2 linked regions of the Homo sapiens genome follow. The protein of the gene in region 2 purifies or fractionates together with the protein of the main gene of each other region. This does not show direct contact. Each region holds a gene or a part of one and is shown on either strand. Other genes may lie near its edges.

Region 1 (3,927 bases), on a different chromosome or scaffold from region 2:
GGGTTTCACCATGTTGACCAGGATGGTCTGGATCTCCTGACCTTGTGATCCGCCCACTTTGGCCTCCCAAAGTGCTGGGATTACAGGTGTGAGCCACCACACCTGGCCCAATATTTTTTTAAAAAAGAGCTAAAGAAGAAAAAAGAAGTGAACTCAAGTTTCGAAGGTCTTACTAAAGGTCCCCAAAAGGGTTTATGTCACTGCCACTTGATTATGGAGAGTAGATTGTGATGGAAAGTGTGGAAATAGAGGGGGGATAAAGTAATTCAATGACAGAGATAAGTGGCAAATGATTATCGTATGCTAAACTCAGACTCCAAAATCCCTTTGGGAAAAACTCCTGTAATGTCAAGTAGAAAGTTTAGCCTTGGCTTCCTCAGTGAGATATATTAAGACTTTTAAGGCACTGAGAGCGCATGAAGGGTCTCCCTTTTAGAGACCAACATGAACATCCAAATACTCAAAGGTACTTCAAAGCTTAACAGACCTGGTTACGACTTCTGGGCCTCTGAAGTTTTTACTCCACTCACAAAGTAACAATGTATGTATTAATACTACTACCATTACTATAAAGACAACAATAATTACAACTATCACTGCCAGTATTGCCCCTGCTACTGACCACCACCTTTCCTCTATCCAGCACTTGCTTTGAGCCAAGCCCTGTGCTGGGTGCTTTACATAGATAACATCCAATCCTCCTACAGCTCCATAAGAGAAGTGTAATTGCCTCCATTTTACAGGTGAAGAAACTGAGACTTAAAGAGGTTAAAAATCTATCCCAATGGCAGAGGCAGATTTGAAACTAAGTCTGCCCAACACCAAAGTCTACTATCCTTTGACTGTGGCATGCTTTCAGAGGTACTATTTACTGAGTTTCTGTTATCTGCCAGGTACTAGGCTAGTCATTTTTAAAAAATATATATTTATAACTCTCAAAAACAATGTTAAGAGATAGGTCACAGATCATACAACAGAAGTTATCGGGGTAAACTAACTTCCCAAGAAGCTCACAGCTAGTGGCAGACTTACTTTTAAATTACTGGTTTATCACTGGTGAAATAAAATAAACCTAAAAATTAAAACTCTTTCCTTTAGTATAAGGAAAATAAGAGGGAAAACTCAGTACTAACCAGTTTAAATCTAACATTACATAAAACAAAAATAGACTTACCTGGCTATGTTCTTTATGCTAGAAAATAATTAAACCTGTTTAGAGTTCTAAGCACCAAACCAGCCACAAAAGACTGGAAACTAGAATCAATTTTAAGTTACGAAGACTAACACTCTACAGTTCCAGAATGCTTTCAAATAACATTTTAAATGATTGTTCTTTTTCTGAAGAAAAAAGAAAAACGCTCCAGATAACAATAGTTTATCCTTACAACATTCTAGTGATATAAACAGGGAGTTAGTTGTTTTCTCTTTATAGAAGGGAAAGGTCCACTGAGTACAGAAAAACTAAGGGATTGTCTATAGTTCTGAAACTTGAGCCTGCTGGCCTTCACTCAGAGGTAGATCTCTGCCTGCCCAATGAGGATGCTCTGCCCTTGACACTGGCTACACTTTTCCTCCAACTGAAACAAGGCGAGCTGATTTTCACAGGATTATGAGACCCATCTACTGCTTGAATTTGGCTCTCCTGCAGGGAGCATTAATGCTTGTTTCTAGATGTGGAGTTCAATTCAGTTCAATGGTGATAATTTTTAATTCACTGCTTTTTTTAAAAAAAAATACAGGTTCTTAAACAAAGAACTCAATGGAAATAATTCACTGCTTTTGACCTTTAGCTAAGGACCCACTTCTAATCAAAATAACAAAAAGTATGGCCACATGTGGTGGCTCACACCCGTAATCCTAGCACTTGGGAGGCCAAGGCGGGAGGACTGCTTGAGCCTAGGAGTTTGAGACCAGCCTGGGCAACATAGTGAGACCCTGTCTCTATTTATGTTTTTTTTTTTTTGGTTTTGTTTCGTTTTGCTTTTTTTGAGACAGAGTCTCACTCTGTCACCCAGTCTGGGGTGCAATGGCACGATCTCAGATCACTGCAACCTCCACCTCCCAGGTTCAAGTGATTTTCCTGCATCAGCCTCCCAAGTAGCTATGATTACAGGCGTCCGCCACCACCCCTGGCTAATTTTTTGTATTTTTACATACATGGTTTCACCATGTTGGCCAGGCTGGTCTTGAACTCCTGACCTCAGGTGATCCACCCGCCTCCACCTCCTAAAGTGCTGGGATTACAGGTGTGGGCCACCACATGCAGCCTTTTTATGTTTTAATATTTTTACTATTTTTAATATTTAAAAAAACCAAAATAACACAAAGTGGCTTGAATAGATAAAAAGAAAGTACCACTTTCATTATATAGCAGAAAAACACACAAAATTCCTACTCCAAAGGAGGCATAAGCAAGAAACTAGTAAGAAAAAGAGAAACAACTCCCATTGGTTGAGCACATACTATGTGCCAACCACTGTTCTGAGCACTTGAAATGCATTAACTCGTTTATTTTTATAACAACTCTTATGATTCCCATTTTGTGAATGAGAAAATTGTGGCACAAAAATGTTAATAACTTTCCTAGGATGATAGGATTCAGTGTCATGGTAAGTATTAACAGAAGAACAAGAATTTAAATCCAAGTAGAGAATCCACATTCTGAGCACATTATTCACAAGACAGAGTATAATTTAAAATGTGGTAAATGACAGTGCCACTAGTGGCTGCTAAGTGGCCTGGCCACAGCTCGCCATGCTCATTCCACCACACCACTAGACCCTCTAATGGCAAGAGAATTATGGACTAGACAGGGGATGGGGCTGACTCAGGAGGGCAGCAACTCTATCTTTGTGAAAAATAACATCATATGACCATGTTTACCAAAACCAAGCTGAAAAAAAACTTTAAGAGTAAATTTTGGAAAGAGAAGTAGCCAAGTTCAAATTATTTCATATAAAGAAATAATTGATTAGAATGTCTATACCAAAAGCCACAAATATTTGCAGAATACGAAAATCTGACTTTAATAAACTTTAAATCATCTTTGGACTGGCAAGCTTTTCTTTCTTTTTTTTTTTATTTTTTGAGATGGAGTTTCACTCTTGTTGCCCAGGCTAGAGTGCGATGGCATGATCTTGGCTCACCACAACCTTCATCTCCTGGGTTCAAGGGATTCTCCTGTCTCAGCCTCCTGAGTAGCTGGGATTACAGGTGTGAGCCACCATGCCCAGCTAATTTTTTTGTACTTTTAGTAAAGATGAGGTTTCACTATGTTGGCCAAGCTGGTCTCAAACTCCTGACCTCAGGTGATCCACCTGCTTTGGCCTCCCAAAGTACTGGGATTAGAGGCGTGAGTGACCGCACCCGGCTGGACTGGTAAACTTTTCTAGGAAAAGATCTTCCTAGAGTTGGTTTTCCCCTATCCAAACCTATCTTTTCCATTTCTTCCATTAGACCTTTGCTTTGATGATGATGATGATGATGATGATGACCAGGATGCTTTTGCATTTACTGAGTTTCTACTTTGTGCTCAGAAGTGTGTTAAGGTTTTTGCACTTAATAACATAAACTTTCATTTAATATTCATGACAACCCTACAGAGTCAGCATCCTATTGTCTCCATATTACAGATGAGGAAATTGAGATTTTAAGAGGTGAAATAACTTGCCCAAGGTCACAAAGCTAGTAGATAAATTCATTTTTTTCTGACCTAAACACCCATAATATTAATCAAATAAGCAAATATGGGTGGCTACCTGACTGTCCCCTCCTTATTTAGAGACAAAAACCACAGTGAGTGCTGCACATTCCAGCCAAATTCCATCACTTCCAAGTCCTGGACAGAAATGAAGGGATATGGTCAGGAGGCTTAAGAGAGCCACACTGGGCAAACTGGCTTGAAATCTAAGGGTGCTTTTGCCACTC
Region 2 (3,927 bases):
CCACCTACCACACTAAATTCTTGTGATCTTTCTACTCTGCACTCTGAAATCCACAGTAACTTATTAGCATAATGCCCCCACCTTTTAAAAAAGCATTCTTAATTTGCCTTTTATTGTTTCTTAATTATAGGTTTAGGAAGTTACAAGGGCAGTTGTGTTACATACACATATAGTGTAGTGGGGAAAGTGTTGGCTTTTAATGGACTCATTACCTAAATAATGTACCTTGTACTAAATAGGATTTTTTTTGGTTTTTTTTTGAGATGGAGTCTGGCTTTGTTGCTCCCCCGGCTGGAGTGCAATGGCATAATCTCGGCTCACTGCAACCTCCACCTCCCACATTCAAGCAATTTGCTCTGTTGCCCAGGCTGGAGTGCAATGGCACTATCTCAGCTCACTGCAACCTCCGCTTCTCAGGTTCAAGTAATTCTCCTGCCTCAGCCTCCCAAGTAGCTGGGACTACAGTGCCTGCCACCATGCCCAGCCAATTTTTCTATTTTTAGTAGAGACAGGGTTTCGCCATGTCAGCCAGACTGGTCTCAAACTCTTGACATCATGTGATCTGCCCGCCTTGGCCTTGCAAAGTGCTGGGATTACAGGTGTGAGTGCCTGGCTTATTTTTAATTCTGTGTATGTGATGAATCATGTATTGAGTTGCATATGTTGAGCCATCCTTACACCCCAGGAATAAAATCCACTTGACTGTGCTGTTACTATCTTTTTTATGTACTGTTTGATTTGGTTTGCTAGTATTTTGCTGAAGATTTTTGTGTCTATTTTCATCAGGGATATTGGCTTGTAGTTTTTTTGTGTGTTTTATCCTTGCCTGGCTTCAGTATCAGGATGATACTGGCTTTGTAGAATGAGTTAGGGAGGATTCCCTCCTATAATTTTTGGAATAGTTTCAATAGTGCTGTTACTAGTTCTTCCTTGCATGTCTAGTAGAATTCAGCTGTGAATCTGTCTGGTCCTGGGCTTTTTGTTTTTGCAAGATTTTTTTCTATTACTGATTCAATTTCAATACTCAGTAGTCTGTTGAGGATTCCTATTTCTCCCTGGTTCAATCTTGGAAGGTTATGTGTTTCTAGGAATTTATCCACTTCCTCTAGGTTTTCTAATATGTGCATATAGTTTCTGCTGATATTTTATATGTCTGTGTTATCAGTTATAATATCACCTTATCATTTCTGATTGTATTTATTTGAATCTTCTTTTTTTCTTGGTTAATCTAGCTAGTGGTCTGTCAGTTTTATCTTTGCAAAGAACCAACTTTTTCTTTTATTGATCTTTTGCATTCCTTTGTTCTCAGTCTCATTTTTGCCTGCTCTGATATTTGTTATTGCTTTTCTTCTGCCAGCTTTGGGTTGAGTTTGTTTTGTTTTTTCCTAGTTCCTTGAGATGTGACGTTAGGCTATTCATTTGAGATTTTTCTATCTTTTTGGTGTAGGCATTTAATGCTATAAAATCCTCTCTTAGCACTGCTTTTGCTGTATCTCAGATGTTTTCATGTGTTTTGTCTCTATTTTCATTTATTTCAAAAAATTTTAAATTTCCACCTTAGTTTCATCATTGATCCAAAAATCATTCAGGAGCAAGCTGTTTAAATTCCATGTATCTGTTTTGAGAGTTCCTCTTGGTATTGATATCTAGTTTTATTCCACTATGGTCAGAGAAGATGTTAGATATGATTTTGTTTTTTTAAAATTTATTGATACTTGCTTTGTGGTCCAGTATATGACCTATTTTTGAGAATGTTCCATGCACAGAAGAGAAGAGTATATATTCTGTGGTTGTTGGGTAGAATGTTCTTCAGATGTCTGTTGGGTCCATTTGGTGTAGAGTCCAATTTAAGTCCAGAGTTTCTTTGTTGATTTCTGTCCCAGTGATCTGTCTAGTGCTGTCAATGGAGTGGTGAAGTCCCCTGCTATTGTTGTATTGCTGTCTATCTCTTTTCTTAGGTCTAGTAGTATCTGTGTTATGGATCTGGGTGTTGCAGTGTTGGGTGCATACATATTTAGGATTGTTTTATCTTCTTGTTGAATTTATCCTTTATCATTATAAATGACCTTCTTTGTCCTTTTTAATTTTTGTTGGTATAAAGTCTGTTTTGGCCATCACGGTGGCTCACGTCTGTAATCCCAGCACTTTGGGAGGCTGAGGCGGGCAGATCACTTGAAGTCAGGAGTTCAAGACCAGCCTGGCCAACATGGTGAAACCCCGTCGCTACTAAAAATACAAAAAAAAAAAAAAAAAAAATTAGCCGGGCATGGTGGCGCATGCCTGTAATCCCAACTACTTGAGAGGCTGAGGCACAAGAATCGCTTGAACTCAGGAGCTGGAGGTTGCAGTGAGCTGAGATCACACCACTGCACTCCAGCCTGGGCAACAGAGCGAGACTCTGTCTCAAAATAAAATAAAATAAAATAAATTTGACTAACAACTTATGTATAAAAGGAAATTACAAATATATTAGACAAAATCATTCTAACAGGGTATTATGGGTTGAACTGTATCCCCTAAAAAGATATGCTGAAGTCCTAACCCCTGGTACCGGTAAATGTGACCTTACTTGGAAACAGGGTCTTGGCAGATATAATCAAGTTAAGATGAGGTCACCAGGTAACCCCAATCTAACCTGACTGGTGTCCAAATAAAAGACATACACAGAGATACACAGCGAGAATGCAATGTGAAGATGGAGGCAGAGATTGGAATGGTGTATGTAAAAGCCATGGAATGCCAAGGACTGCCAGCTGTTAACAGAGGTTAGGAAAAAGGCATAGAACAGATCCTCAGAGTCCTCAGAAGGAACCAAAACGATCAGCACCCTTGAGTTTAGATTTCCAGGCTCTAAACTATGAGAGAATAAATTTCTCTTGTTTTAAGCCACCAAGGTTTTGGTACTTGGTACTTTGTTATCGTATCGTTTAAAAACGAATACATAGGAGAACCTTTGATAATATGTATCCTAATTTGTTCTCCTTACCTGTTTTAAAAAAATTATTATAAAGGTTAACAAAATGGTCTTACTTTACTGTCATTCAACCAGTATGAATTCCCTCATGGCGAATGAGGTCAGAGCGACTACCAAAAGCCTTTCCACATTCCTTACAGTCATAGGGTTTCTCACCAGTGTGAATTCTCTGATGTCGAGTAAGATTTGAGCCTTTATTAAAGGCCTTCCCACATTCATTACATTCATATGGTTTTTCATCTGTATGGATTCTCTGATGTTGAATAAGTTCTGAGCTCTGAATAAAGGCCTTTCTACATTCTTCACATTCATAGAGCTTCTCACCAGCATGAATTCTGTGATGGTTAGTAAGTGTTGAGGCACTATTAAAGGCCTTCCCACACTGCTTACATTCATAAGGTTTCTCACCAGTATGCATTCTCTGATGCTGAATAAGCCTTGAGTGTTGAGTAAAGGCTTTCCCACATTCTTTACATTCATAAGGTTTCTCACCAGTATGAATTCTCAGATGTAGAAAAAGTTGTGAACTTTTAGTAAAGGCTTTTCCACATACTTTACATTCATAGGGTTTCTCACCAGTGTGAATTCTCTGATGATCATTAAGGTTTGAGCAATACTTAAAGGCTTTTCCACATTCCTTACATTCATAGGGTTTCTCACCAGTGTGAATCCTCTGATGTTGAGAAAAATATGAACTACAACTAAAAGCCTTGCCACATTCCTTACATTCATAGGGTTTTTTACCAGTGTGAATCCTCTGATGTCGAGTAACGAGTGAGCCACGACTAAAGGACTTCCCATACTCCTTAGATTCATAGTGTTTTTCACCAAAATGAATTCTCTGATGTTGGATAAATTGTGAGTTTTGATTAAAGGTCTTTCCACATATCTTACATTCCCATGGTTTCTCTTCACTCATAGTTTTTTGAGGTGGAATAAGAAATGTGGGCTGA

What was found.
Region 1: the proteins of ZNF829 (region 2) and CRYBG1 purify together in Homo sapiens (affinity purification with mass spectrometry; 3 studies listed by BioGRID and IntAct, with this or other methods). This does not show direct contact.

What each region holds. Positions count from the first base shown.
Region 1 is NC_000006.12:106,363,488-106,367,414, reverse strand, and holds part of CRYBG1 (beta/gamma crystallin domain-containing protein 1), read right to left. Parts: intron 1-3,927. UniProt on the Homo sapiens protein: May function as suppressor of malignant melanoma. It may exert its effects through interactions with the cytoskeleton.
Region 2 is NC_000019.10:36,888,451-36,892,377, forward strand, and holds part of ZNF829 (zinc finger protein 829), read right to left. Parts: coding exon 3,042-3,927; 3' UTR 1-3,041. UniProt on the Homo sapiens protein: May be involved in transcriptional regulation.